Linked DNA regions of Homo sapiens. The protein of the gene in region 4 purifies or fractionates together with the protein of the main gene of each other region. This does not show direct contact. Each region holds a gene or a part of one and is shown on either strand. Other genes may lie near its edges. The genes, in order: STX8, SPAG9, CSTF2, SLC30A4, C19orf25, PRPF40A and RBM25.

What was found.
Region 1: the proteins of SLC30A4 (region 4) and STX8 purify together in Homo sapiens (co-immunoprecipitation; 3 studies listed by BioGRID and IntAct, with this or other methods). This does not show direct contact.
Region 2: the proteins of SLC30A4 (region 4) and SPAG9 purify together in Homo sapiens (affinity purification with mass spectrometry; 2 studies listed by BioGRID and IntAct, with this or other methods). This does not show direct contact.
Region 3: the proteins of SLC30A4 (region 4) and CSTF2 purify together in Homo sapiens (affinity purification with mass spectrometry; 2 studies listed by BioGRID and IntAct, with this or other methods). This does not show direct contact.
Region 5: the proteins of SLC30A4 (region 4) and C19orf25 purify together in Homo sapiens (affinity purification with mass spectrometry; 5 studies listed by BioGRID and IntAct, with this or other methods). This does not show direct contact.
Region 6: the proteins of SLC30A4 (region 4) and PRPF40A purify together in Homo sapiens (affinity purification with mass spectrometry; 3 studies listed by BioGRID and IntAct, with this or other methods). This does not show direct contact.
Region 7: the proteins of SLC30A4 (region 4) and RBM25 purify together in Homo sapiens (affinity purification with mass spectrometry; 3 studies listed by BioGRID and IntAct, with this or other methods). This does not show direct contact.

Annotation. Positions count from the first base shown.
Region 1 is NC_000017.11:9,253,853-9,258,130, forward strand, and holds part of STX8 (syntaxin-8), read right to left. Parts: intron 1-4,278. UniProt on the Homo sapiens protein: Vesicle trafficking protein that functions in the early secretory pathway, possibly by mediating retrograde transport from cis-Golgi membranes to the ER.
Region 2 is NC_000017.11:50,991,869-50,995,368, forward strand, and holds part of SPAG9 (C-Jun-amino-terminal kinase-interacting protein 4), read right to left. Parts: intron 3,357-3,500; coding exon 3,189-3,356; intron 2,068-3,188; coding exon 1,896-2,067; intron 1-1,895. UniProt on the Homo sapiens protein: The JNK-interacting protein (JIP) group of scaffold proteins selectively mediates JNK signaling by aggregating specific components of the MAPK cascade to form a functional JNK signaling module.
Region 3 is NC_000023.11:100,833,521-100,837,798, forward strand, and holds part of CSTF2 (cleavage stimulation factor subunit 2), read left to right. Parts: intron 1-3,818; coding exon 3,819-3,929; intron 3,930-4,278. UniProt on the Homo sapiens protein: One of the multiple factors required for polyadenylation and 3'-end cleavage of mammalian pre-mRNAs. This subunit is directly involved in the binding to pre-mRNAs.
Region 4 is NC_000015.10:45,487,941-45,492,218, forward strand, and holds part of SLC30A4 (probable proton-coupled zinc antiporter SLC30A4), read right to left. Parts: intron 3,748-4,278; exon of another isoform or gene 3,644-3,747; intron 2,942-3,643; coding exon 2,788-2,941; intron 1,103-2,787; coding exon 901-1,102; intron 1-900. UniProt on the Homo sapiens protein: Probable proton-coupled zinc ion antiporter mediating zinc import from cytoplasm potentially into the endocytic compartment. Controls zinc deposition in milk.
Region 5 is NC_000019.10:1,472,290-1,476,582, forward strand, and holds the end of C19orf25 (UPF0449 protein C19orf25), read right to left. Parts: intron 2,970-4,293; coding exon 2,743-2,969; 3' UTR 912-2,742; downstream 1-911.
Region 6 is NC_000002.12:152,672,106-152,676,383, reverse strand, and holds part of PRPF40A (pre-mRNA-processing factor 40 homolog A), read left to right. Parts: intron 1-2,677; coding exon 2,678-2,786; intron 2,787-3,341; coding exon 3,342-3,406; intron 3,407-3,760; coding exon 3,761-3,925; intron 3,926-4,278.
Region 7 is NC_000014.9:73,113,557-73,117,834, reverse strand, and holds part of RBM25 (RNA-binding protein 25), read right to left. Parts: intron 3,550-4,278; coding exon 3,502-3,549; intron 1-3,501. UniProt on the Homo sapiens protein: RNA-binding protein that acts as a regulator of alternative pre-mRNA splicing. Involved in apoptotic cell death through the regulation of the apoptotic factor BCL2L1 isoform expression.

The DNA.
Region 1 (4,278 bases), on a different chromosome or scaffold from region 4:
AAATCAAGAACAACAACTGATTGGGAAGAAGAAAACACACATCTGGTTTTGGTTCATACACCCGGAGCGTGAGGTCCAAGGGAAGAGGCCTCAAGGCATGCGCAGTCACTGCCATCCCTGATTTGGCTCCCTGCAGTGAGGGACTGCTTTCCCCGGTCCCTGCTCCACGATGGAACTACAGCAAGCTTTTCAGAATGTAAAGGAGATCAGGTCACCTCCTTGCTTAAATCCTCCAGTGGCTGAAACTGAGATCCAAACTTTACAGTGGCCAAGGGGGTCTTGCACAGTCTGACCCAGCAACCCTGCAGCCGCACTCTGCGCGCTGTGTTTGAGCCATCCTGGCTGTCTCCGGTGCCCCCAACAGGCTGATGCAGAAGGTAGGGGCCCTGCCTCCCAGCTTCGACACGCGCTATCCTTTCCATCCGGGAGCTCCCCACTCGTGGTCTAGTTAATCCCTCAAACTCAGTGGCATTTTCCCAAAGAACTCTTTGTCATCCTCCAGTTACCTGTGCCCTCTTTGCCCCCCTAAGTTTCCATGGTAACTCTTATTAAATCTTTTTTTTTTTTGAGATGGAGTCTCGCGCCCAGGCTAGAGTGCGGTGACGTGATCTTGGCTCACTGCAGCCTCCGCCTCCTGGGTTCAAGCAATTCTCCTGCTTTAGCCTCCCAAGTAGCGGGGATTACAGGTGCCCACCACTATGCCCGGCTAATTTTTGTATTTTTAGTAGAGACAGGGTTTCACCATGTTGGCCAGGCTGGTCTCGAACTCCTGACCTCAAGTGATTTGCCCTCCTGGGCCTCCCAAAGTGCTGGGATTACAGGCGTGAGCCACCGCGCCCGGCCTTGAATCATTATTTAGGTACTCAGTTACTGTCTGTCTCTCCTGGACACATGAACATCTACACCAGGGACTGTGGGTTCTCGTTCACCGCCATATCCCCCGTACCTAGAACAGAGCCTGGCACAGGAAAGAGGCACACACACACGCGCACGTGTGTGCATGTGTGTGTGTGTGTATAAAACAAATGAGTAAATGTATTGAATTTTTGGAAGGGATAAGAAGAGTCAAGAGAGGCATAGAAGGAGTGGTCAGCAGAGAGGGAGAAGCTGAGAAAATGTGGCAAGAAGGCCAATGAGTAAGAAAATTCAAAAAGTGGCCAATGCCAACCCACAATACTACAGAGACAAGATAGAAGAATGCTCTTCCACAGAAGAGCTGCAGAGACCTTTCATAGTACAGTTTTAGCGCATGGTGGGTGGGTCTAGTGGAACTATTATTAATACAGTGGTGGCTAAGCTGCTAATTTTTCTACCACAGATGCTGTGAATTAGACAAACTGTGCCCCAGGAAAGGCATGACAGGGCACACATTATCTATAAAAAATGAAAATGGGCCAGGCGCTGTGGCTCACGCCTGTAATCCCAGCACTTTGGGAGGCCAAGGCGGGCGGATCATCTGAGGTCAGGAGTTTGAGACCAGCCTGGCCAACACAGAGAAACCACGTCTCTACTAAAAATACAAAAATTAACCGGGCATGGTGGTGCACGCTTGTAGTCCCAGCTACTTGGGAGGCTGAGGCAGGAGAATCACTTGAACTCGGGAGGCGGAGGTTGTGGTGAACTGAGATTGTGCCACTGCACTCCAGCCTGGGCAACAGAGCAAGACTCCATCTCAAAATAAATAAATAAATAAATAAATAAATATATAAATAAATAAATAAATAAATAAATAAATGAAAATGAACTTGAGTGATGGACATCTTGGACAGTAAGCTGATAAGATGTGATAAACTGGGTTCTTGTCCCAAGATGAAAAGGAGGATTTTAGGAGCCATGACAAATAAGGCTTTTATATTTTAAACCCTTTCAGAGCAAACAGGGGGAGACTTTAAACAGGCTTAAGTAAACTGGTATATACTGAGGGTCAACTGAGGAGGTCGTTTTAAGATGGCAGGTGACAGCGATAAGCAAAAGCCAACTGCTGTCTTTTGGATTCTTTGGGTCAAAGAGAAGGTGTTTATCTACCTTAGCACGGCAATCCTTTTTCTTTAAGAAGTTTGGCTTTCTTCGAATGTGATCCCAGCTCTGGCACCTTTCTGAATGGAGTTTCTCTCCTCTGAAGGATGTTTCGGAATGAGTAAGCAGGGATCTTTTTGAAGCCAGGGAAAGCTGAGCCACACCGTTCATGAAACAGTCATGCGTGCCAGGTTTGGCACTAAGTGCTATGGGTGTATTACTTGGTTTAATTCTGCACAGTAAGTAACCCTCATCTCTGTTTTATATCTGAGGAAGCTGGGGTTCTGGAAGGTGAACTCTCCTACCTAAGGCCCTCTGGCGGGTAAGAGGAAGAACTAGAATTGGAATCCAGGTGGGTAGGACCCCTCTGCCCACACGCTCACCCTTGTCTACACCAGTGGAGCTTGAGTGGAGGCATCCTGATTCGAGACAGTGTGGGGGTCCCTCGGGGAGAGAGGCTCAGACTCACTGGGGTTGAAACACCGGGATCAAGAGTTTCTTCTCTTTTCATCCTCTTCTCTTTCTCCCTCCCTCCTTCCCTTCCTTAACGTTTTATGATGGAAAATTTTAAACATATACAAAAGCAGACCGAAGGGCACGCAGAACAGTGATGAGCCCATCCGTCAGCTTTCGCAAGGATCCATTCATGGCCTGTCTGGCTTTATGCAAACCCTCACCTGCTCCCTGTCTCCTGCATATTATTTTGAAACAAATTCCAGACATAGGTCATCTACAAATATTTCAGTAAGTATCACTAAAAGGCACCATTAAAAAGACACACACACTCCCCCACTACCCACATAACCACAGAGGGTCTGACGGTTCCTAAAGGCAGAGGCAGGGAAGAGCTGGCAACTCTTCTGATGTAGGAAGGTGGCTCCAGTTTCAGGGGCGCAGCCGACCCCCCTGCCGGAGGGACATGGGACCTCACATCGTACTCGGTCACGTGTGAAAAGCAGAACTTCCTTCTTCTGCCTCAGAATAGTTCTTAAACCTCAGGGGGGTCTACTCATCCATTCCCCCAGCTAAGGAAATGTTTGACATTTCAGAACAAGGAAAGACAGTTGAACTTCTGGGAGGCTGCCAACTTCTTAAACAATGAATGCTCTCTGCCCCCAACCCTAGCACAGAACACCTGCTGCGGCTCCTGACTTCGGGATCGTTTCTCTGCGCTTCACTCAGCTCCTGCCCTGGGCCCGCTGGCACCTGGCGAGGCAGATTTTCCCTTCCAATACTCAAGAGTCCCTTTCAGGGGCAGGCATGGGATGCCAGGGTTACAAGAGTGGAAAAAAATGTCCATTTCCTTTGGTCAGTTTACCAGATGAGTATTACTCAACCACTTACAATATTTACAAGTCCAGCTCATGGCAATTAAAAAAAGATGTAAGAAAACAAACTCCTTTTCAAACTGGGAGAGGATATTAAACACAGTCTCTCAGGAATGGTGTTTTCTGAAGACTCGTCATCTGGAGTCATGGTCCATACTTTTTTCCAGTGAAACACTGGAAACGAGCAAAATACGGAGCTTGTGCTGCCAACGCCCCTGCCACAAGTTGGGTGTAGGTAACAGCTCTCAGTGCTTACTGACATGGAGGAGGAGGGGAAGGAGGAGAAAGAATCTGGAGGCTGACTTTTCGAGAGAGTGTGGATCTCTGTGTTGGCCACTTCTGCCCTGTAGCTGCAGGGGAACGTGGCAAGTAGGCTGATGGGAAAGCAAGAGGCAGGGAGGGGTGAAGGGCGCTTTATCCAGGAGTCTTTTTATCTGGTTTTGTTGCAAGGAAAGCCGCCTTAGCTGCCTACTACTATTTTGGTTGTCTTGAACCAAAACACATATTCTGGCCAGGCGTGGTGACTTATGCCTGTAACCCCAGCACTTTGGGAGGCCAAGGCGAGTGGATCACCTGAGGTCAGGAGATTGAGACCAGCCTGGCCAGCATGGCCAAACCCCGTCTCTACTAAAAAATGCAAAAATTAGCCGGGCGTGATGGCAGGTGCCTGTAATCCCAGCTACTTGGGAGGCTGAGGCTGGAGAATCACTTGAACCCGGGAGGAGGAGGTTGCGGTGAGCTGAGATTGCGCCACTGCACTCCAACCTGGGTGACAGAGCGAGATTTTGTTTAAAACAAAAACAAAAACAAAAAAAGCATATTCTTTTTGTTTGCCTCGCTTTTCACACCAGAAGAGTTAGGCCAACTGGCAACCCACACGTAGCTACTAAACTTAAAGATGAACAGAGGACACTTCTTAGGGACAATTCCTAAA
Region 2 (3,500 bases), on a different chromosome or scaffold from region 4:
CCACCTCAGCCTCCCAAAGTGTCTGGATTACAGGTGTAAGCCACCATGCCAGGTCTTTTTTTTTTTTTTTTTTTTTTTTTTTTTAAAACACAGGGTCTTACTCCCATTGCCCAGGTGGGTGTGTAGTGGTGCAATCGTAGCTCACTGCAGTCTTGACCTCCCCGACTCAAGTTATCCTCCCGCCTCATTTTTTGATTTTTTGTGGAATGAGGTCTCACTATATTGCCCAGACTGGTCTCAAACTTCTGGGCTCAAGTGATCGTCCCACCTTGGCCTCTGAAAGTGCTGGGATTATGAGTGTGAACCTCCATGGCCGGCCTATTTCTAAAGCTTTTCCATCACCTCACACAGAAACTCTATGTTTTTATGAATGTGCCTATTCTAGATATCTCATATAAGCGGAATCATATAATATTTGTCCTTTTGTGTCCGACTTATTTCCTTTGGCATAGTGTTTCCAAGGTTCATCTGTGTTATAACATGTGTCAGAACTTCTACCTAGAGGATAATGTATTGTACTCTTAAAAATTTGTTAAGAGGGCTGGGCATCCCAATACTTCGGGAGGCCAAGGCAGGCAGATCACTTGAGCCCAGGAGTTCCAGACCAGCCTGGGCAACATGGTGAAACCCTGCCTACAAAAAGTACAAACAACTTAGCCAGGTGTGGTAGTGTGCGCCTGTGGTCCCAGCTACTTGGGAGGCTGAGCTGGGAGGATCACTTGAGCCCGGAAGGTCATGGCTGCAATGAGTACAATGAGTTGTGACTGCACCACTGCAATCCAGCCTGGGCAACAGAGTGAGGCCCTGTCTCAAAAAAACAAAAACAAAAATGTGTTAAGAGGGTAGATCTCAGGCTGGGTTCAGTGGCTCATGCCTGTAATCCCAGTACTTCGGGAGGACGAAGCGGGTGGATCACCTGAGGTCAGGAGTTCAAGACTAATCTGACTGCCCGGGGTGGTGGGTCACACCTGTAATCTCAGCACTTTGGGAGACCGAGGCGGGCAGATCACGAGGTCTAGGAGTTCGAGACCAACCTGGCCAATATGGTGACACCCCATTTCTACCAAAAATACAAAAATTAGCCGGGTGTAGTGGCTCGTGCCTGTAGTCCCAGCTACTTGGGAGGCTAAGGCAAAAGAATCACTTGAACCCAGGAGGTAGAGGTTGCAGTAAGCCGAGACGGTGCCACTGCACTCCAGTGTGAGTGACAGAGTAAGACTCCATCTCAAAAAAAAAAAAAAAAAAAGACTAGCCTGACCAACATGGTAAAACCCCGTCTCTAGTAAAAATGCAAACAATTAGCCGGGCGTGGTGGCAGGTGCCTGTAATTCCAGCTACTCGGGAGGCTGAGGCAGGAGAATCACTTGAACCTGGAAGGTGGAGGTTGCAGTGAGCCGAGATCATGCCATTGCACTCCAGCCTGGGTGACAGAGTAAGACTCTGTCTCAAAAAAAAAAAAAAAAAAAAAGTAGAACTCATATTAAGTATTCCACAATAAAATATAAAAAAGAACTTCATTCCTTTTTATGGCTGAATAATATTCCAACATATGGATATATCACATACACTTCTTTAATTTTTAAACTAATGTTTTAACATCACATAATGTTTAATCCAAAACTTTAGAAGACCTTTCCTTATTAATTAATCCAAACAGTCCTCTGGCTCCCAGTTATTTTCTCATATTCCCATTGTTTTATTTTCTTCACAGTATTTTTCACTACCTGAAAATATCTTCTTTATTCAATGGTTTCCAGTTTGTTTTTTAATCTTCCCTAACTAGAACATAAGCTTCATGACAGCAAGGTGCAGAACTGCATCTTCAGCTGCTACATCAGTGCCCAGCAGGTAGGTGGATGGAGGGGAGGGCAGAGAAACGCATGACTCACTCTTACCTGGCACACTTGCAATGCACAGAACATGAGAGTTGCAAACAGTGAAACTGTCTAGGATGTTGCCAGGTTGAACAGCATCAATAATAAGAACTTTTGTAGCCGAATGAGTGCTGGTACAGATCCAAACTAGACTGGATAATTCTTCTTGATTTTTTAACTCCTTCTGCTGTTCCTGTATAGGCAAAGGAGGAAAAATGTTTAAAACAATATGTATGTACAAATATTCATAAGGTGGTGCTGTTACAGTAAAAGGCAATACTATTTCAAATTTATTTCCAGATTATTTGGAAGGGTAAAAATACAACCACTGATGTGGTTTGGCTGCGTCCCTACCCAAAACTCAACTTGAATTGTATCTCCCCGAATTCCCACATGTTGTGAGAGGGACCCAGGGGGAGGTAATTTAATCATGGGGGCCAGTCTTTCCCATGCTATTCTCGTGATAGTGAATAAGTCTCACGAGATCTGATGGGTTTATTAGGGGTTTACACTTTTGCTTCTTCCTCATTTTCTCTTGCTGCCACCATGTAAGAAGTGCCTTTCATCTCCTGTCATGATTCTGAGGCCTCCCCAGAGGTTACCTATGTAAGCCCAATTAAACCTCTTTTTTCCTTCCCAGTCTCGGGTATGTGTTTATCAGCAGTGTGAATATAGACTAATACAACCACCTATCAATATTAATTAGTAGATGAAAAACTAGCAGTTAGGCTGGCACAGTGGCTCACGTCTGTAATCCCAGCACTTTGGGAGGCTGAGGTGGGAGGACTGCTTGAGGCCAGAAGTGTGAGACTAGCCTGGTCAACACAGTGAAACCCTCGTCTCTACAAAAAATAAAATTAGCCAGGTGTGGTGGTGTGGGTGTGTAGTCCCAGCTACTTGGGTGGCTGAAGTGGACAGATCACTTGAGTCCAGGAGGTTAACACTGCAGTGAGCCATGATCATGCCACTGCACTCCAGCCTATGTGATAGAGTGAGACTCTGTCTCTAAACAGCAACACAAAACTAACAGGTAAAGCAGAACAATGATAAAATGTTCCATTAGCTTGATCACTGTAGTGATTACATACGTGTACACATGTGTCAAAACTCTGACCTATACCCATTTCGAGTGCACACTTTATTGCATGTAAATTATACCTCAATATTTTAAAATTGATTTTAAAAGGGTGCTGAGGGACAGTAAGCCAGGGCATAGTAATCCCAATTAGAAGCTGGACCCAGAGGCAAATTTTGGATGAAAGAGTTAAACTCATAGTCTCATAAACCAGGTCAAATGTTAGTACACACACTTACCTTAAGTTCCTGATCTAACTTATCTAAACTACTCTGAGAGGCACTTCGCTGTTTACTGCCTTCTGTATCCAAACCAGCAACATCCTTGTAAAATACACTTGCTCCAACAACAGAACCACCATCTCTGGTCTTCCCACCAGATAAATTGACTCCAACAGCACACCACAGCTTCTCAGGTGAAAAAGAAAACAATATTAAGTCTAGAAATGTTTAGCATTTTCATGTTTTCTTAAAATAACTAATGGTTGTAAATACAGGTCTTATAACCTAATATTATAAAATGAACAATAACCTCACCATAGAAGTAATACT
Region 3 (4,278 bases), on a different chromosome or scaffold from region 4:
CAGGAATTGATTATTGAGCCTAATTATTACTGCCTTCTGACTTGGGCTGTTTCTTAGCTTGTTAGAAAGGGAAGACTTGGATCTCCCTGTAGCTTCTCTGTCCCTTAGGGTGGTGATTTTCTGGCTATCAGGATTGTAGTTCAAAAAAAAACAACCTTATCCCACAATAAATAGCTATTCATTTGGAGCAGAGCCCCTGAAAATTTAGGGGTTAGAAAGTAGTCTTGATTGGGGTACAAACCAACATCATGTACACGGTTTTTTCCAAGATATACTTGCCCGGATCTCATCCGAGGTATAACTCAGAATCTCTTATTAGTAGGATCTGAGCATGGATAGTTTGAAAAACTTCCCCCAAATGATTCTAATGTGAACCCTGACTGGGAACCACTGGGTTAGAGTATATGAAGAGCTGTTAGTGGCCATTTAGATAATCTTAGGTTTAGAGAGACCTGTGTTAATTTATTGTCATCACATAGCCTAAGTGAACAGTGGAATGTGAAAGGCAGTTTATTAATAATCACCTTAAAAGGTGTGGAACCGAAGTCTTGTCTCCTCTCTTTTATTTGGATCTCTCTGCCTGTGTGTACATGCTCCCTCTTCATCTCGACTTGGTTGTGGAGAGGTGGTATGTGTGTTTCTTCCGTGAGTTTTTATATGCTGGCACCTTCATTTCCCTCTAACTGCTCCACCTTCCTTTTCCCCCCTTCCTCTGCGTACTTCTCTCTTCTTTTTTTATGTGTCTTCCTCCCCATGTCTGTGTGTATGAGAGAGAGAAAGATAATGGCAGAGCTGGAATGGAATACATCAATCATCTAATTCCCTCAGTTTATAGATTTGGAAATTAAGGCCCAAGAATTCAGGTGACTTGACCAAATTCACATGACTAAAAAGTGGCAGAGCAAGGAACAGAAGCCACTACTTTTTCCACTTTACTACTCTGTCCTGTTATCTGCACATTTGTGTGTGTGTATATGTGTGGATATGTGTCTACCCCCTCCTCTGTAATATGAAATACAAATAGAGGGTTTTTTTGCTATGTGTAGAATAAAACTGTTCTCTATTGTGTTTGAAGTGTTTGTGGGCCTTGATTTTTATTGTACTCTCTATGGTCAGTAGCCTAGTAACAGAAATGGTTTTTATGCATTCATTCTGTCACTCAGCAAATATTTATTGAGCACCTACTATGTACCAAACATAGATCTAGGTACGGGGGATACTGCAGTGTGAACAGAACAAAGCCCCTTCCCCCATGGGCTTACATTCTAGTTGGGAAGACAGATAACAAACAAATAACTACATAATGCGCTTACATAATTTTACTGGTAGTTCTATGATGCAAGACATTGCAAGTAAGGGTTGGAAGAACATTTCTGGATAATATTTTGCTCCTTTCTCTCTGCTGGTACTTGAACTTATTACCCTAATACTAGGTTTATACCATTTTTATTAGTAGATTCGATAAAGCCAATTAGATCTGAGGCAAGAGAAAATACAAATTTTATCTTCAAACCTTTAAAAAAATTTTAAATTAATATATTAACTTATAAATATATATATTCGTTCATCTATAAAAGATATATGTATTAAGAACTTCAAGCCAGGCATGGTGACATGCACCTGTAGTGCCAGCACTCTGGAGGCTGGGGCAGGAAGACCATTTAAGTCTAGGAACTTGAGGCTGTGGTGCATTCTGATCGCACCTGTGACTAGCCACTGCACTCCAGCCTGGGCAGCATATTAGACTCCCATCTTTAAAAAAAAAAAAAAAGCCAGGGTAGAATCCTGTAGTCCCAGCTACTCTGGAGGCTAAGGCAGGAGGATCAGTAGAGCCCAGGAGTTGGAGGCCCGCCTACACAAGATAGTGAGACCACATCTTAAACTAAAAGGAACCTTGCTTCCTCTCCTATGCTTGTCTCCCCTGTGGCCCTCTAGGTCCTGTAGATAATCACTTTTATTAGATTTTTCATGTTACTTTCTGGAAAACATGAATATATATTATTTTTCCCCTTTCACTGTTCTATACCTTTTTTTTTTTTAACTTAACAACATGTCCTTAATTCATACTTTTAAATTAGATTTTAAAATTAACTCTAGTCCACTTAGTTAGAAACTTGTGGGCAAAAGGCTTATTATTACTAGGGTGATTATATAATTTATCATCTAAAGGAGAACATGAAAGAAAGTGCTGTTACTTTACTTGGAGGCAAAAACATAAACTGGGACTATCTTAGGGAAACCAAGATGTATGGTCACTTTTGCTAGTACTTGTCTGCCTAGAACAAGCACACCTAGAAACTTAAAATGGCCGTTATTGAGTGGTTAGATCACAATTACAGTACCTCAGATTAAAGCTTCAAAAAGATTATACTCAATTCCGAATTGTGCTGCTATAAACTCATGTGACCAAACACCACCTGTTCCCCAATAACCTATGGAAATAAAAAATTTTAAAAAAAAAGATTATACTCATAGGTGTTTCAGACCCATAATAGCTCGTTAATGTTCAGACTGGTCTCTGGAAACTTGTCTCTGGTTTCAGTATTGATAATGAACAGAACAGTGATAATATTCTAGCAGTCTATACAAATCTGTACTAATGTTTCATCTATCCATTGTCTTTGGGAAATGAGTTAATGCATGTAAGTGAATGTTCCAGATAATAGAACTATTCTACCAAGTTTTTTAACTTTTTTAATAAAAAATTATAAAAAGTATTTGATATTTCCTTTCTTGAACAGGATACAAAAAAATAGTTTAATCAGTTTTGACTACTCAAGGTCATCATTGAATAGATTCATTATTGTCTATACCGTAATATAAAACATAGTTATCTCCTGTTTGGTTTCTGGTCTCCTTCACTGTCAGGCCGTCACCTGGCTCTTCATATTACTGAAGTGGTATCTGCTCCTAACAGTTATTTATCCGTATTTCTTTTATGTTTTGCTGCTTCTAATCTGCTGGGTAAGCAGGTAACAAGTTTGTTAACAATATGTGTTTATTAAGAGAGTACCTAAGCTCTGGGTGAATGCCTGAGTGTGAACATAATGCTTGTATAGGGACATTCTAACAGTTAGATTTGGTACTCAAGAGGTCTTTTCCTTGGGTTCTGGTAGTCTTGCAAAGGGTTGAACTCATTGAAGATCTTAAGTACCAGTAAGTATGATATCACTGTACTTGGTTTTTTCACTCCAGTCAGTCATATTTTTTGGTCTACATTTAGCAGAAAGCATCTGCCATATGTTCTCTATGGAAAGCTATAAACAGCAAATGTTGGGCTAATAGCAGTCTTTTTCCTGGAGGCCTTCCCATTGCCTTTCTGCCTCTCTGACATTATGAACATCTCTGCCTCACTTGTGGGATAGGGCCCTTTGGGACAAACTACCTGTATCTGATTGAACTAGGGTAGGGGGTGGCCCTGTGAATGTAACTTCCCCAGTGGACCAGCATACATTTTCTCTAGACTCTGTTGGCTTTCATTTGTATTTCCAGTGAGCACTAGTTTCCAGGGTGTTCTCAGTTTTCACTGTGCTTATTTGGCTGAATTTTGATTAATTCAGTGGTATCCAGTTGTGCTGTGTAATATTTGTTGATGATGCTGGAGGTGTTGTAAGCAAGTATGTCGAACTTGCTAGTTGATCTCTGGCTAAACCCTGCCTTCTGCTATTGCTAACAGTAGAAAATGATCTTCAGAGTCATTGATTTGCTTTTTTTACTCATATCTGTATAGAGATCATAATTTGTCACATTATTACTGAATTCAGGTTACCTATACATTAAAAATGCCAAAAATCTCTCTTTTCTCTTTGTACACATAGGTCCCAGTCATGCAGGGAACAGGAATGCAAGGAGCAAGTATACAGGGTGGAAGCCAGCCTGGCGGCTTTAGTCCCGGGCAGAACCAAGTCACTCCACAGGATCATGAGAAGGTAAGCAACACTGTCTGACTGCCTCCTTATGCACAATTCTAGCCTTTTTGATTCCTCTTTTCACAGTTACCATGTGACGATCCTGGGTCTTCAAAGTCCCTTTGGAGGTGATGTTTATTCTAACTTAGAACTCTTTTATGATCTTGTTACCTGAAAATTTGTGAGTCTGGTCCTGAAGTTCCTAATGGATGTGAAGTTCTTAAGTGGATGTAAATGGCAGCTTATTTTATATTTCACACTCATCTGCCAATAGCAGGTTTTTCTTGTTCAGGCCAGATTGACCTGAAAATCCACACCCTTTTTCCTTCCCTTTCTACTTTATCCCTAAAAACAATAGTAGATTCCCCAT
Region 4 (4,278 bases):
TGTGTCAAAGCTGGAAAAAAGTGTGTGTGTGTGTGTGTGTGTGTGTGTGTGTGTGTGTGTGTTGCCCAGGTTGCTCTTGAACTCCTGGGCTCAACTGATCCTCCAGCCTCAGCTGGGATTATAGGCACAGCCACTGTACTCAGCTCTGGAAAAAGTTTTAGCAGCCACTAGTTTAAGCCCCTTGTAATAAAGAAGAGGGAACTCAAGTTTAGAGTTCAGGTATTTGCTTTCAAGGTCAAAGCATTAATGGCAGAGCCAAGACTAGAACCCACTCAGATCTCTGGATTTTCAGTCCAGTGCACATTTTACTACCTAGTAATTCAATCACGAGTTTTAAAATTGAGTTATCTGGGCAATCATGGTGGCTCATGCCCGTAATCTCAGCACTATGGGAGGCTGAGGTGGGTGGATCACTTGAGGCCAGGAATTCGAGACCAGCCTGGCCAACATGGCGAAACCTTGTCTCTACTAAAAATACAAAAATTAGCTGGGCATGGTGGTGTGTACCTGTAATCCCAGCTACTTGGGAGGCTGGGGCATGACAATCACTTGAGCCTGGGAGGCGGAGGCTGCAGTAAGCCAAGATTGTGCCACTGCATTCCAGCCTGGGCGAGAAAGTGAGACTCTGTCTCAAAAATAAATAAATAAATAAATAAATAAGAAAATTGATTTATCCAGTGAAGGCACTACAAAAGCCAAATACAGATAAGTTACCCTGTGACGTGATATCATTTTGTTTACTGCTAACAAAAGAACTATAATGATTGTCAAGTAAACTTACATCAATGTAAAATGAATAGAACTGGCACTGGTGTCCAGTATACTGATATGACAATCAGCCTTAGTTTTCATGTTGAAATTAAGTACATTTTAAAATAGAAAAATTACCAATCATATTACCTTGAATCGTATGATGTATGCAGCTATTAGCACACCAACACTCTGTACCAAATCTCCCAAAGCATGTACAAATGCAGCTCTCACTGCCAGGCTATCCTGCCCATGGTTACGTTCACACCCAGAACCTCTGGTAGGGGAATTTGAAGGCAGGGAGTGGGAATGGGAGTGACGGTGACCAGACTGGTTCAACAGAAACCCCATTCTGTTAAAAATAAAAGAAAACATTATTATTTTTCCCAATATTGACAAAAACATTTGTCACTAGTCAGACACTAATGAGGTAACATGGAACTCATTTATTTAATAAATTTGGAGCAACTATTATTTATCAGTACTGTTCTAGGTACTTGGGTCAAAACAGTGGTAAGATAGACATATCCCTACCCCCATGGAGCTTATGTTCTAGTAGAGAAGGCAGAGAAGCCAACAAATAAGTACATAAGGTATAGCCAGGCAATGTGAAATGCTTTGGAGAAACATAAAGCATTGTAAGGGGATGGAGGATGATGGGCAGAGTGGTAAGGGAAGGCCTCTCAGATTTTCTCTAAGCAGATACCTGAAGGAGGTCAGAGAGCAAGTGGTGGAAGAGTGTTCTAGGCGGAAGAATAGCAGAGCAAAGGCCCCAACATGAAAATGTGCTCTGTGTACTTGAAAAAAGAAAGCAGCCACTGTGGGCCAGAATAAAGTGAGCAAAAGTGCTAGGAGATGAGTGGTAGAGGTACACAGAGTCTTACTAACAAGGCTGCAGTAAAAATTTGATTACATTCAGGGACTGTTGTGGGGTGGGGGGAGGGGGGAGGGATAGCATTAGGAGATATACCTAATGCTAAATGACGAGTTAATGGGTACAGCACACCAACATGGCACATGTATACATATGTAACAAACCTGCACGTTGTGCACATGTACCCTAAAACTTAAAGTATAATAATAATAAAATTTAGAAAAAAATTCATTTCATTCTAAGTACAAATAGAAGCCACTAGGGCAGGGATTGGTAAACTGTGGCTGGTAGATCATATTTGGCTCACTGATTTTTTTTTTGTACATAAAGTTTTATTGGAACACAGCCATGTTCATTTGTTTACATGCTAAGTGTGGCTGCTTTTGTTTTATAACAAGTGTTGAGTAGCTTTGAAAGAGAATATATAGATCTCAAAGCTTAAAATATTTACTATCTAGCCTTTTACAGAAAAAAAATTGCTGACTCTGGTCTAAATGATTAAATCTGTTAACTTCAACTTTATTATTTTTTGTTTGTTTGTTTTTAAGACAGGGTTTTGCTCTGTTGCCCAGGCTGGAGTGCAGTGGCCCAATCATAGCTCAATGCAGTCTTGATTGCCTGTGCTCAAGTGACCTTCCCACTTTAGCCTCCCAAGTGGCTGGGACCATAGGCACGAGCCACCGTGCCTGGCTAATTTTTATTTTTAGAAGAGATGAGGTCTCACTATGTTGGCCAGGCTGTCTTGAACTCTAGAGCGCAAGTGATCTTCCCACCTTGGCCTCCCAAATTGTTGGGACTATAGGTGTGAACCACTGTATGTGGCCTAACTTAAACTTTCAAAACTTTCTTCCCTAAAAAGTTTTAAGGGAAAAAAATTGATAGCTTAAGAAAAAAAATCTAGTTAACACAAAAGTATTCTAAAAGTTAAACAAGAACAAAAAACTTTGTCCTACTTAAATTCATGATTTTGACTCAATCTCCAATATACCTGGGCAAACTAATGAGGAATTTATAACGTCCATAGTGTTTCATTTATCAGAAAAGTTAATGAGTTATATCATTTTTAAAATATCAAAATATCACTGAATATTACTGAATGCATATGCAATAGTCTCTGAGTTCACAGTACTTGAAAATATTAATGTGAAAAAAATAGAGCTTACATTACATTAACTGCAACTCCAACAGCTGCGGTGATGAGCATTATATCTCCATTTATTTCATAGTTCATATGGATAGTTCTTTGCACAGCTTCATATAAGAGGAATCCCATAAGTATATACACCAACAGCACACTAATCATAGCTGACAAAACCTCTAGAGGGAAAAACACATATAACAAATACATTTTCAGCATGGTTACTACACTTCATACCAACTAAATATTATATAGTCTTTTTTATATTCTTTCCTCTAAGGAGATAAAAGCCCTCTATTGTTTCTGTCACGTCATTTTTCTTATTTATTTTTTTGAGACAGGGTCTCACTCTGTCACCCAGGCTGGAATGTAGTGGCCTGATCATGCATGGTTCACTGCAGCCTTGATCTCCCAGGCTCAAGTGATCCTCCCATCTCAGCCTCCAAGTAGCTGGTACTATAGGCACATGCCACCACACCTGGCTAATCATTTTTCTTATTTAAAATGTGTTTAGCACTTACAGAAAAAAAAAGTGGTTAGCAGCTTGACTGATATGGATCCTCCACTAATTTACCCTTACCTCTCCCTACCCTCCACTCCTCTCTCTCCAGGGTCAAATTATGTATATTTACAGACCATGCACAAGGTAGAAAATGACAAAATGAGAAAAAATATTTGTCACGTATGTGATCACAGACTAATTTCTTGATAGAAAAAAGTACACTCAAAAGTCAGTAACAGGTAAGGTGTGGTGGCTCATGCCTGTAATCCTCCAACACTTTGGGAGGCTGAGACGGAAGGATCACTTGAGCCCATGAGTTTGAGATCAGCCTAGGCAACATAGTGAGACTCCGTCTCTCTTGGTTTTTCCCTTCCCTTCATGTCAAATGGGTAATGTGCCAACGTTGTAACAAGGTTCCAGGGTGGCACGTCTCACACATGTATGTGAACACCTAATTATCAAGCTCATGAACTACAAGAGGATCAAGACTCTATCTCTAAAAAACACATTAAAAATTAGCTGGACATGGTGGTGAGCACCTATGGTCCCAGCTACTCAGGAGGCTGAGGTGGGAGAATTGTTTAAACCCAGGAGGTCGAGGCTGCAGTGAACCGTATGCTACTGGACTCCAGCCTGGTCTCCAGAGCTGTCTCAAAAAAAAAAAAATCAATAAGAAAATTCATAATAAACAGAAATGGCCAAATTCTCAAAATCAGTCATAATAAATGAAATTCAGATAGGAATAAGATTTATTTCCTCCTATTAAATTGGCAAACTTTTTTTAAAAATCAAAAGTTTGATAATAGCCAGAGTTAGCAAGGATCTACCGGTGGAAGTATCAAATAGTATTACCTTTTTAGAGAGCCAATTGGTAAAACTAATCAAAACTTAAAATGTGTACATTACTTGATCTAACAATTGTACTTTTAGGACTCTACTTGATAGAAACACCTGCATGTGTGCAAAGATATCTACAAGGCTTTCACTGTAGCATTGTCTGTAGCATCCAAAAAA
Region 5 (4,293 bases), on a different chromosome or scaffold from region 4:
CCAAAGGGTAGGGAAATGGCGAAGCCAGCCACCAGGTCGCTGGTGACAGGGCCAGGGTTATGCAGGAAGGTGGTGCGGCATTGCCTTCCACATATGTAAGTCTCTGGGCGGCGCCCTCCCAGCTCCCTGCCTCTGTTTCCCCATGTGGGCCGTGGGGAACTCCCAGAGCTACCTCTTGGGGGAGCGTGGTGGCAGCGATGATGGGGAGACGCCTGGAAGCTCACAGAACTTGGGTCTGGCTGGCTCCTGCCCGTGACGCCTTGCCCAGCAGCAAGGTGCGCAACATGGCTGCCAGCCCCGCCTCCCACCCCCACCCCGAGTCCTGAGCTCACTTTCGCCTTCTCCATCCCCTGCCGTGGGGGCCACAGCCACACCTCACCGCCCAGTCCAGCTGTCTCCAGAAGGGGACAGGCAGTCCGCGGTCTCTGGACAATCAACTCAAGGTACGCCCACTGCAAGGCCTCCCTCCCACCGCGGCCCCTGCCTGGCCACCTGGCCTCTCTGCACCAGGGTGACAAGGGGTCCTCGTCTGCCCCCCAATGCTCCAGGGCCAGTCCTAAGGAGCTGAGGGTCTGAGGACGCAGGGAGGGTGGAGGTGTCCTGAGGCTGATGGACAGTGACCGCCACTGGCCCCCAACATGACCACACGTGGGTGCTGAACTCGGGGCGCCGTGCCCACCGGCATGGTCCTCCCGAGCTCCGACAGCATTACCTCACCCGGCCCCATCTGTTGCCCCGGTCCAGCCCTGATGGCGCGCGCCTGGTCTGTCTGATTCCCCTAGCCGCCACCCCACGTTTCTGTACCGGGTCTCTGCAGTGTTAAACGGACGTGTAAATAGTGGTAAATAGTGAAAGCCTGTCCTTCCCTAAATGTAAAGCCATCTGTCCGGCGTAAGGACGACACCGTCAGCTGTCCGACTCGCACACATTTAATAAACTGAGCTCTTGCATTGCCTGCCGCCATCACCTCTTCCTCAAAATGGGCTGTGGGCGGGTAGGTTCATCGCTGTCTATGTGCTGCCACAGAATTGCTGAGACCCCCCAGGTTAGATCCCTGGAAGCAGAGCCAGAAAGCAGAAACTGGGGGCACAGGGTTTGTGGGCACCCCACCCAGATGGGCCGGGGAGGCACTGGCTGAGGCCAGGAGTCTCCCCCTGGTCCCAAGGGAGGGCAGGCTCCAGGGGGTGCACAGCACCCCAGACAGGGGGTCCAACCTGGGCATTGGTACCTGGGCCAGTTATTATGGCAGGCCCCAGTGTGGGGCAGGAGGCACCCATGAGCCACTAGGAGCTGTGGCTGGTGCAACAGCTGGGATGGGGCAGCCACAGCAGCCACTACCGGGGAGAGTCAATGGTGGACAGGGGCTGCGGGAGCTGGGACGGCCCCACGTCAAAGCCACTTCAGGGAGCACAGCCCTGGCCCAGCTGGGGGGACAAGGAAAGCTATGACTGCAAGCAGCACAGAAGTGCAGGGTGGGAAGGGATGGCAGGAGCCGGCCCCCTCCCCACCTTCCACCCTGGGACACTGCCGGGACCTCCCTCGGCCAGGTGAGCAGCTTCAGAAGCATGACCAGTGAGAAGTCCCTAGGGCCCAGGCCGGGCTAGCCAAGTCCCAGTTTCTGGATGAGGCGCCTCCCAGGCTGTGTGTGGCAGGCCCCCTTTCTTCAGGGAATAAGAAACATCTTCCACATTCAAGAAACAAAGCTGGCTGTGGGTCTGGAGAGAGGGTGAGGCAGCCCCAGGTCTCTGGGTCAGGCGGACGGTCCCTGCATGCAGTGCCCGGCAGGACTGAGCAGGGTTCCCGGGGTCGCCGGTACCCATCCCTCCCCAGCTTCCGGGGCCCCGGGACGGAGCCGCTCACAGAGGCACCATTCAGACGGCCAGACACACACGAAAGCTTTATGTGCAGGGCCCAGCCTCTGGGCCGCCTTGCCCAGGTTTCCACTCAAGTTGCTATTTAGGATGAAAAGCCTTTGGCAAGACCCTCCGCCGCACTAACGCCCCCTCCCCCAGGGCCAGAACCCGCAGGGAAGCAGGCCCAGGACCTGCTGCAGCTGGCAGGGTGGCTATGAGACTCAGGACACCCTGGGCTCCTGGCCAGTGACTCACAGCGGTCCTCCAGCAAGGGCAGTGGCTGGGAGACACCCGTGCCGTGGAGCTAGGCCCAGCCTGGCTGGGTCTCAGGGCTGCTTCTCTTGGGTGACCCCAGCGGCCCAGGGTCGTTGTGAAGATCAACGTGGCTTGTGGGAGGAGCCCGGGGCCCAGAAGGAAGTGGGGTCAGGGGCTCAGGCTGGCCCTCGGGCTGCTCTGACATTGGGTGGGCACTCGCTGGATGGAATCACAGTTAACACCTCGATCCCAACACCTGGACTCAGAAGTGGACAGGCGAGTGCCTGCCCCGGGAGAGGAAGGAGGTGGCACCTGCTCCCAGGGGCCCCACTGCAGAGCACGGCCACTGTGAGCTGACGACAGAATCACAGTACAGCAATAATGTCCCTATCCTCTTCCAGAACCCCAGTGGGGCCCTCAGGTCACGCAGGACGGAGCCAGCTGGGTGGGTCCCACCAACTCGGCATGAATGAGACGACGGATGAACCGCAGCCCCAGCATCAGGAGGGGCGCCTGTGTCAACACCCACGTGGGCTGGGACCCCGTGAATGCCAGTCTGGGGCCGACGGACCCCCAGGGAAAGCCTGGGTGCAGGCCACCTTGTGCGCTGCCCAAGCCTGCAGGCCCCGAGAGGTCAGCCTGAGGAGGCAGCCTCGGCTGCCGGTAATGCTGCCTGCTTCATCTGGGCCACCTCCCGCTCCAGGTCCTCGCCGGCTCGCTGCAGGAGCTCACACCTCTGCCTCAGCACGTTGCCCGCCTGCTGCAGCCGCTGGTTGGCAGCCACGTAGGCCCGGCTTTGCTGGTAGAGCTGCTCTCCCGGGGCCTCCGCATCCTCCATCATCCTGAAGGGAACTGGGGGGTCTGAGACAGGACACAGCAGCATCACTGCCTGCTGACCACCCCATCCTCCTGGGCACCCCTCACTACTGCCCCCAAAGGGCAGGGTTCCCTGCAGTCCCCGAGTGAGCTTGCCAGCCGGGGTCTTCTTAACATGACGGATGCAGCCAGGTGTGGTGGCTCACGCCTGTAATCCAGCACTTTGGGAGGCCGAGGCGGGAGGAACACTTGAGCCCAAGAGTTAGAGACCAGCCTGGACAACATAGTGACACCCCCATCTCTACCAAAAAATACAAATACAAAAATTAGCTGGGCGTGGTAGCACGCATCTGTGGTCCCTACTTCTCTGGAGGCAGAGGCAGGAGGATCGCTTGAGACTGGGAGGCCGAGGCTGCAATAAGCTATGATCGTGCCACGGTACTCCAGCCTGGGTGACAGAATGAGACCCTGTCTCAAAAATAAATAAAAACAAAAATCAAGTAATGGAGGCTTCCTCGTCCATCAGCTGGGAGAGGCACAGTGGCTGGGTGGCAGGAGGGGCTTCCAGCTCTAGGCTACCCGCCTTAGCAAAGCGTGTGACCAGGGGGATCGGGTCACAGAAAGAGCTCAAGCCTCGCCAGCAGTGGCCCTCCTGGGGGCGGGGCTTCCATTCCTGCAAAAGCCGTGGCACCCACCGGGATGGACTCCACTGAGCTGGCCTGGCTCTCATTCCTGCTGTCTCTGGAAGCCAGAGACGCAACAAGCCCGCCACCGAAAACCTCTCCAGGGGCCGTGCAACCTCCTGGAGCACACACTTAGGGAGGCAGGGGTGGCGAAGGTGAGAGGTGGGCATTGACGTCCTGGTGACTCCCACATTCAGCAGAAACTACGTATGGCTCCCTGCTCCCCCACGTATGCAAGCCCAGTGCAGCAGGGCTGAAGCAGCACCGACTTCAGGGTCACTCAGAGAAGCGTCAGGGGCCCCTCGGCTCTGGCCTGCCCCTCGGCAGTGTGGTCTCCCACGGACGAAGGCTCCACGTGCCGCACGGGTCTGGGCTGATCAAATCACCTCTGTCATCACCTGCTTTAGCAACAGGGTGGGAAAGGCCGGGCAGTGCCTGGATGAAGGCACAGGAGGCCCCCTACCTTCTGTGAGCGCCCCCCGTCCCCCGCACAGCGTGCCTCAGTTTCGCCACACTCAACGGCCATGGACCTGAGCCCATGAAGCTCAAACCACGGCCCCAGCACCCTCAGGTGACCGAACTGCATGCTGGGAATAAAACCAACTCATGCACCTTGACCAGTACCGGCCCACAGAACCTTCCAGATGATGCGCACACCTCCCACCGATGCTGGTCCACACCAGCCA
Region 6 (4,278 bases), on a different chromosome or scaffold from region 4:
CTGAAAATCAGTACCAGATTGCATTAAATAAAAGTAATTGCCAGTTTAGTTAGTGGCCATTAATAGTTTAAATAAATTTTTTTGAGAATCGTAATATCACCGTTAAGACAGTTGATCAGTTTTCAGGCCGAATTTTGGAGGGTTATGCCAGCAAACTTGAAAAATAGTTCAGTGAAATTTTAACAAGTAGAGCCAAGGCTAGGGAGTTGGGGCACAAATCTAAAAGATTGCCAAAAACCTTAGTAAGCAAGATACATCATATTTTGATGCAATATTTTACATCAGATCAGTGCAAAAATTCATGATTAACAAACTATCAGTATTTTCAGTTAAGACAGGTGTATTGTTTCTTCTTTGGTTATTGGTGTTTTGGGTTTCAACCTCCTATAAATCAGTTAAAAAAATACAGCTTTGTAGAAAAATGAATTATGGGGGAAAAAAAAGCAGTTTATGGCTGGGCATGGTGGCTCACACCTGTAATCCCAGCACTTTGGGAGGATGAGGCAGGAGGATCACTTGAGGCCAAGAGTTTAATATCAACGTGGGCAACATAACAAGACTCTGTCTCTACAAAAAATTTAAAAATTAGCCAGCACTTGTAACCTCAGCTACTGAGGAGGCTGAGGCAGGAGGATCACTTGAGCCTAGGATTTCAAGGCTGCAGTGAGCTATGATTGCACCGCTGCACTCCATCCTGGGTGAGACAGCAAGGCCACCCTGTCTCTCTTTTTTTTTTCTTTTTTTTTTTTTGGCACAGGGTCTCCCTCTGTCACCCAGGCTGGAGTGCAGTGACGTGATCAGGGCTCACTGCATCCTCGACCTCCTGGCCTCAAGCGATTCTCCCATCTCAGCCTCCTCCTGAGTAGCTGGGACTACAGGCACACACACCATGCCTAGCTCATTGGCCTGCCTCAGCGTGCCAAAATGCTGGGATTATAGGTGCGAGCCACTCCACCTGGCCAAGGAAAAAAGGCAATTTACAGAGAAAGAAAGTTGTCTAGGAAGTATATGAAAAGCCATTCAGCCATAATAATAAAGAAATACAAGTTAAAATAATACTGTGATTATTTTTCTAAGTGAAAGTCAAGTAGAGAAACATTTAAAAGATAACACCAGATACAAGAAAACTCTCTTTTCACTCTTAGTGAGACTATAGTAATACAACTTTTTAATAAAGCAAAGCTGTTATCTGTCAGAGTTCACGGTTTGTGTGTACTTGCATACCCTGTAGTCTAGTACATTTTATATGGCTATGCTTTATAGAGCTTTAGAAAGTGAGGTCAAGCTAAATTTCTTGACTTTAAGGGTGGCCTGAATAGTTCACCATAATCTCATTATTGAAACATGATTATCCATCTTAATATTTAAGCATGTTGCCTTCATCCATCCATCCCCTATTTTAAGTGTTCTTTTGTTTTTCGTATGTTAGTTTCCCAGAGTCAAAATAGATTTTTAACTTTTTCTGATGTTTCAAAAGTTTTAAAAGAAATCTGTATGGTGTATTTGAAGGCATGAAAATGAAATTAACATTTTGTTTTATACTTTCTCCCCCTTTTCTCTACATTTAAGATACACGAACATATATCTAATATATCAGAGACATCTTCCACATTGATAGAAATGTGTACCCATCATGTCAAATGATGGGTTATTATCATTTGATTGTGCATAAATGGAAGTGCTCCTCTATCAATAGATATTTAGGCTTTTTGGAATAACTTTATTTTGCGTCTTGTCATACTGAAAGTTTTCTTCAATGTTTTCCATAAGTTTAACATTAAACAGTTGTTTCCTGCTTTTTTTCATTCCAGCATTTCCTTGGTATAGTGTCTGAGTCATAATACGCTTTTGATTTTAATTACTATAACAGAGATCATTTTTTGTCAGTATCTACTACAGTGTCTCTTCGCCTAAGCGTTCTACTTATTTTTTTTTCATTCCCTGGCCCCCACCCATGCATTCCCTTATTATGTAGAAAGAAATGTAAGGCTTCTACCATTTTTTTCTCATCAGGAAAACCCCCAATTATTAAACAAGTTAGTAATTCTGGGTAGTTGTAATTTTTGTTTGACATCAGTGTTCAGCAAACTTTCATGAAATATTAGATTGGAAATATTTTTGGATTATTTGTGTCATACAGTCTTTATATGGTGACTCAATTCAGCTGTGGTAGCACAGTCAGCGATAATGTGTAAACAAATGAACGCGGGCATTTTCAAGTAAAACTATAATTACAAAAATTAATAGGCTGAATTTGTCTAGTGGGTTGTAGTTTGTCAATCCTGATTTAGATTGATCCTTACATCTTATTTATCTTCACACTTGCCCAAATCCTTAGAGTTATTATAGCACTAATGTGAAACCACTGAATGAGTTTAATAAGCCATTTAAAACTATTAACCTATGGGCCAGAGGAGCTAGTGTTTTAAGTCAGTTAAATGTTTATTTTGTCATTTGTCCAGGGTCTTAAAAACTGATTTAATAACTGAACTTTTAGGAAACGATTATCTTTATTTCTTTGTCTTCAGATAAGTGTGTTTTTAGAGTTCATATAGCTTTTATTCTAAATGTCAAATTTTATTTCAACATCAAACATTTAAACAATTTAGACATTATTTTTCTAAATGAAGCAAAAATTTATTTAATTGATAAATACCACATTTGAATTTCTCTCTAGTTTTACTCCCAAAAAAGAAGAGGAGGAGAGCCAACCAGCAAAGAAAACATACACTTGGAATACAAAGGAAGAGGCAAAGCAAGCTTTTAAAGAATTATTGAAAGAAAAGGTATTAATATTGCAGATTTTTATTGTTTCTTAGCTTTTTGACATCAAGCATGTATTATGGATTTTTATGTGATGTGTAATAATTACCCAACAAATGACGTTACTCTTTAATTAAACCTTGATGGTATTGATAATACCAATCTCATGAACTGTTGTAACTGAAAAGCAACTAAATATGTCTTTTTTTTTTTTTTTGAAGTACACTTTTGTGAAACTTTCAACACAAAAACTATTGTGTACAAGGTACTACACAAGCACATTTCTACCCAATATTTAATGTAAGGGTTTTTTTTTAATTCATAATAGTTATCTTTTATCCATAGTCTAAGAAAAAAGCATTTATGTTCTATTTAAATTTCAGTTAAAGTTTTCATTTTAGTTCATAGGTGTATTACACAGATTTGCCTTCAGTAAAAAACTATTTTTTATAACTTGTTTCAAACTCCTGCAAAGGGAAATGCTTGATGTTTGCAGTTAGTATTATACTCAGTTTCCTATTATGTGACTTAAACTATTCTTGTGTGAAATTTTAATTTTTCATTTAAATTATTTTCAGCGGGTACCATCGAATGCTTCATGGGAGCAGGCTATGAAAATGATTATTAATGATCCACGATACAGGTAGTACTTCAACTTTTTATTTACTTTTCACTTTGAGCATATAGCAGGCCTAGCACATTTAAAGTTGTGTAGAAAGATAAAACATTTAACTGTTGACTTCTGTTTAGGATACCAAGTATAGAGTTGTTTTATGTCTAATAACCAAAAAGTCAAAGGCTTATCAAACAATTTGAGTACTCCGCTACATATAAAATAATAATTATTTTAAAAGTAGAAATTACTTTCTACAATCATTTGTAATAAATTTTTGAAAATTTTTAAATTATATGTGTAAACAGTTTTATTTTTTTTTTCAAACCACTAATATTTGATTCTTTTGCCTGTGTTTACTCTTACATGGTATTTTTATATTAGTGCTTTGGCAAAGTTAAGTGAAAAAAAGCAAGCCTTTAATGCCTATAAAGTCCAGACAGAAAAAGAAGAAAAAGAAGAAGCAAGATCAAAGTACAAAGAGGCTAAGGAATCCTTTCAGCGTTTTCTTGAAAATCATGAGAAAATGACTTCTACAACCAGATACAAGTAAGATGTTTAGTGTTACATGGCCTATGTTTACTACATTGTTGTTTGTGTCATACTTTTCTGCCATGTGCAGTAGCTGATCCAGAGCTCATTAAATAAAACTAGATGATTATGAATGTGGAAACTTGATGAGGTACAAAATAAATCTGTAGTTAAATGTAGAATTTAACTTGTTGACTTAATAAGTTTTTGAGAGACTGGAAGAAGGGGAGAAAGACTGTATTCAATAATCAAGTTGGAGGCCAGACGTGGTGGCTCACACCTATAATCCCTACCGTTTGGGAGGCCAAGGCAAGCAGATGGCTTGAGCCCAGGAGTTCAAGACCAGCCTTGGCAACATGGCAAAACCCTGT
Region 7 (4,278 bases), on a different chromosome or scaffold from region 4:
CAGGTCTTCATAGAGGAAGTTTGGGGTAGGAATTTAGAGTACTCAATCTCTAGTCAGACTACATTGGTTCAAATTCTCTAGTCAGGCTACATAGGTTCAAATTGCACTGCTGCCTCTTACTAGCGATAGGTCCTTGGTTGGGTTACTTAACCTGAGCCTCAGTTCCCTCACCTCTAAAGTGGAGGCGATGTAGCTACACACCATAGCAGTAGGTACTAAGTGGGAATTAAAAGAGTTGGTATGTAGTTAAGTGCTCTGACAACTGACTGGTATATAACAAGTGCTTAATAAATACCTGGGAAGAGACTGGGCACAGTGGCTCACGCCTGTAATCCCAGCACTTTGGGAGGCCTAGGTAGGCAGATCACCTGAGGTCAGGAGTTTGAGACCAGCCGGGCCAACATGGTGAAACCCGTCAATACTAAAAATACAAAAATTAGCCAGGCGTGCGGGTGGGCACCTGTAATCCCAACTACTTGGGAGGCTGAAGCAGGAGAATTGCTTGAACCCAAGAAGTGGAGGTTACAGTGAGCCAAGATCGCGCCACTGTCACTCCATATAGCCTGGGAAACAGAGCAAGACTCTGTCTCAAAAAAAAAAAAAAAAAAAAAAAAAAAAAAAAAAGAAAAGAAGAAAGAAATTAAAAGAAAGAAATTTCTGTCACTTTCTCAATGATAGCAATAATTAATTAAAGAACTTTTGATCAGATTTCTATGAGCCAGATTTGACTTTAGTTGAAGAACTCTGTTGTAACACTAATTCACATCTGAGTCACACTTCAGAGAGATGTAGGCACAAAATGCAACCAAACTTCATTTAATTTACATAAAATGAAAAAGGTATAATATAAAGAAGTCAGACTTTTGTTAAGAGTGAAACAGTACTCAGGCTAAAAATTCAGTCTCCTCATTTATTCAAGAAATATTTACAAGGCCCCATGAGCTTTTTAGCAGAGCTGTTTGACAACACTAGCTCAACTGGTTTCCTCTCATTCTAATCAACGAGCCACAAAATCATAAACAGTGGTCTAAATACACTTCAAATATCAATATATTACAACAGATCAAAAAATCTAAAATTAACACTGACATGAAATCTTTACTATGTATGATAGGAACTCTGCTGAGGCCAAACGCTAGAACACAGTTTTATTTAAAAAATGTCTTCACTCAGGCCTAACTACGACACCCTCTACTCCAAGAAAAACGGGGCTGGAAGCTTCAGGAAAGTTCAGAATTCAGCCCCAAGGACTGAAATCTATTCACATTTCTCCTTTCCTCTGAGGCAATGAAGTTTTCACAAATGTTTTATCAGGTGTTCTAAATGACAGCTGCATCAAGCTAGCTAGGCAGCAGAAAAGGAATGTTATCTGGCTTTAGACACCATAAAATGCCTGGACACAAAGCAGCTAGACCTCACAATCCTTCTTTTTGACTATAAACCCCACGATGTCCCTCCCTGACATCTCTGGTGGCAGTTCCAAGTGCAAGTACTCCCAGTCATCTACCATTTCATATCATGCTTGATGATTTTTCCTTCCTTACTCATCTTCCCATTGCTGTCTTCCCGCTCTGCCCTTTGGACCGCTATTCCATTTTATACTACACATCAACAACTAAATTAGGTTTTTCCTCTTAACAGAAACCCTCCTCTATCTCCTAGAGCCCCGGCACTTCTCAGGCAGTCTCTCACTCTCAATGTCTTAATCTCCACAGGAATGACTTGTGGGTCTTCACTGTTTCTTTCTTGGTAAAAAAAAAAACAACTCCATGGACGTTCATGAGCTCTCACCACCTTATCCACTGTAAGAGCAGCTATCTGGCAAGTATCTAGTCTTTCCCCCCACTTAAATGAGTGCTCTGGCAACTATTTCCAGTATTTCTCTCCAATCTGACTCCCAATACCCAGGAATTTCCCATAGTCATACTATGCACCTTGCCATCGTCTGGGCTGACCTATCACATATAGACTTGAACTTTCTACACTCTGACCATAACCTCTCCTTTCAGTTGTTTTATTACAATTCGCCTTCCACAACTTCACTGGAACCACTAGTCCTTAATTCATTCAAACCACCAGCTCTATTCAGATACTATTTTCTTCTCTTCCTAACTTGGAGATCATAGTTCAATCTCTTGCTCAACCTTTACCATCAATTTTCTTCTCCTTTCCTTGTCTCACAAAATCACAGTGTTAACTACATGCTACCACTGACTGTAATCCCAAATTAAATGCAACGGGGATTTGATGTTTACTGTCAATACAACAGGTGTTTGGATACCTGTCCAAAAAGCAGCACATATGTACAATCTTGTGGCCATAAAAAACGAAATAGTGTCCTTTACAGGGACATGGATGGAGCTGGAGGCCACTATCCTTAGCAAACTAACACAGGAACAGAAAACCAAATACAGTATGTTTTCACTTATAAGCGGGAGCTAAATGATGAAAAAACATGAACGAAGAGAGGGGAACAACACACAATGGGGCCTATCGTAGGGCAGAGGGTGGGAGGAGGGAGAGGATCAGGAAAAATAACTAATGAGTACTAGGCTTAACACCTGGGTGATGAAATAATCTGTTCAACAAACCCCCATGACACAAGTTTACCTATGTAACAAACCTGCACATGTATCCGACTTAAAACACACACACACACACACACACACACACACACACACGTATCAGTTCCTGTAGTAATCCTTGTGATGCTTAACCTAACTGCTATCAATGCCATCAGATGTTCTATCTCCTCTACCTCCATTATCCTTTCTACATATCTAATTCAAACAAGTACATCAAGGTTCCAGTACCTGTATACCTATCTCTCTGCTACTACAGGTCATTTGTTCTACTTTTATGCTTCTAGCACATTGTGCTGGGCATAGGGAAAACATGAATGGAACTGGTGGAAAAGAATGAAGCCTTATTTATTTATTTAGAGATGGGGTCTCACTCTGTCACCAGGCTGGAGTGCAATGGCATGATCTCGGCTCACTGCAACCTCCACCTCACAGGTTCAAGTGATTCTCCTGCCTCAGACTCCCCGAGTAGCTGGGACTATAGGCACACGCCACCACGCACAGCTAATTTTTGTATTTTTCATAGAGACGGGGTTTCACCATGCTGGCCAGGATGGTCTCGATCTCTTGACCTTGTGATCCACCCGCCTCAGCCTCCCAAGTACTGGGATTACTCAAGTTTTAATTCAGGCCTAAAAAAGATTCTGGAACAAAGACAGGCAGGAAGTGAATCAAATTCAAAAGTGAGTTTATATAGATGTTAATTAAAATATTAATAATAGTGCATTTCTGGCCAGGTGTGGTGGCTGATGCCTGTAATCTCAACACTTTGGGAGGCTGAGGCAGGAGGATCACTTAAGCCTAGGAATTTAAGACTACCCTGGGCAACGTGGTGAGACCCCATCTATATTTTAAGACAAAAAAAACCAAAAACTTTTTTTAAATTAAAAGAAATAAAAATAGTGAATTTCTAACTTACCATGGCAACATCATCTAAAATGCTCTGGGGTGAACTATGAGCCATAACCTAAAAGAGAAAAATAATTGTCACATTAAAAATAAATAAAAAATTAACAATACAGTCAAGAAATTTTAAGGTATGAATCCTCAAATTCATACAGGAACTTCTTGCGGCTAAGGAACCATTCTATAAATGTTTTAATTTTCAGAATATCATTCTTCAACGAAAGAGGCACCAAAACCTGGAATATTAATCTCCATAGTGGTCTGTAGTCTAATTTTAAGTCAAATCTCACACAAGTTTTAATGCCACAATAATTACAAGTTAGAGAAGACAGAGTAAATTTACTGTTCATAATATCAAAAGAGCACTACTGGCAAAAAAATACCATAGCTATACCTTTATAGAAATATGGTGTTTCTACTATGTTAACTGTTTTATTAAAGTTAAGACTATGTTTTCAGGAGACAATGGGAAGATATACCTTAGTGGTTAAGAGCATGGGTTTCAGAGGCTAGACTCAGTATAAAACATAGCCAAGACACAATCTCTCCTTAAACTTCAATTTCTTCATGTATAAAATGGGTATAACATTCATGACAGACAGATTCTAAGTGTTAGGTTAAAAGAAGTTTTTCTTTTTTCTTTTTTTTTATTTTGAGACAGAGTCTCACTCTTGTCACACAGGCTTGGAGTGCAATGGCGCAATCACAGCTCACTTCAACCTCCGCCTCCCGGGTTCAAGTGATTCTCCTGCCTCAGCCTCCCGAGTAGCTGGGATTACAGGTGCCTGCC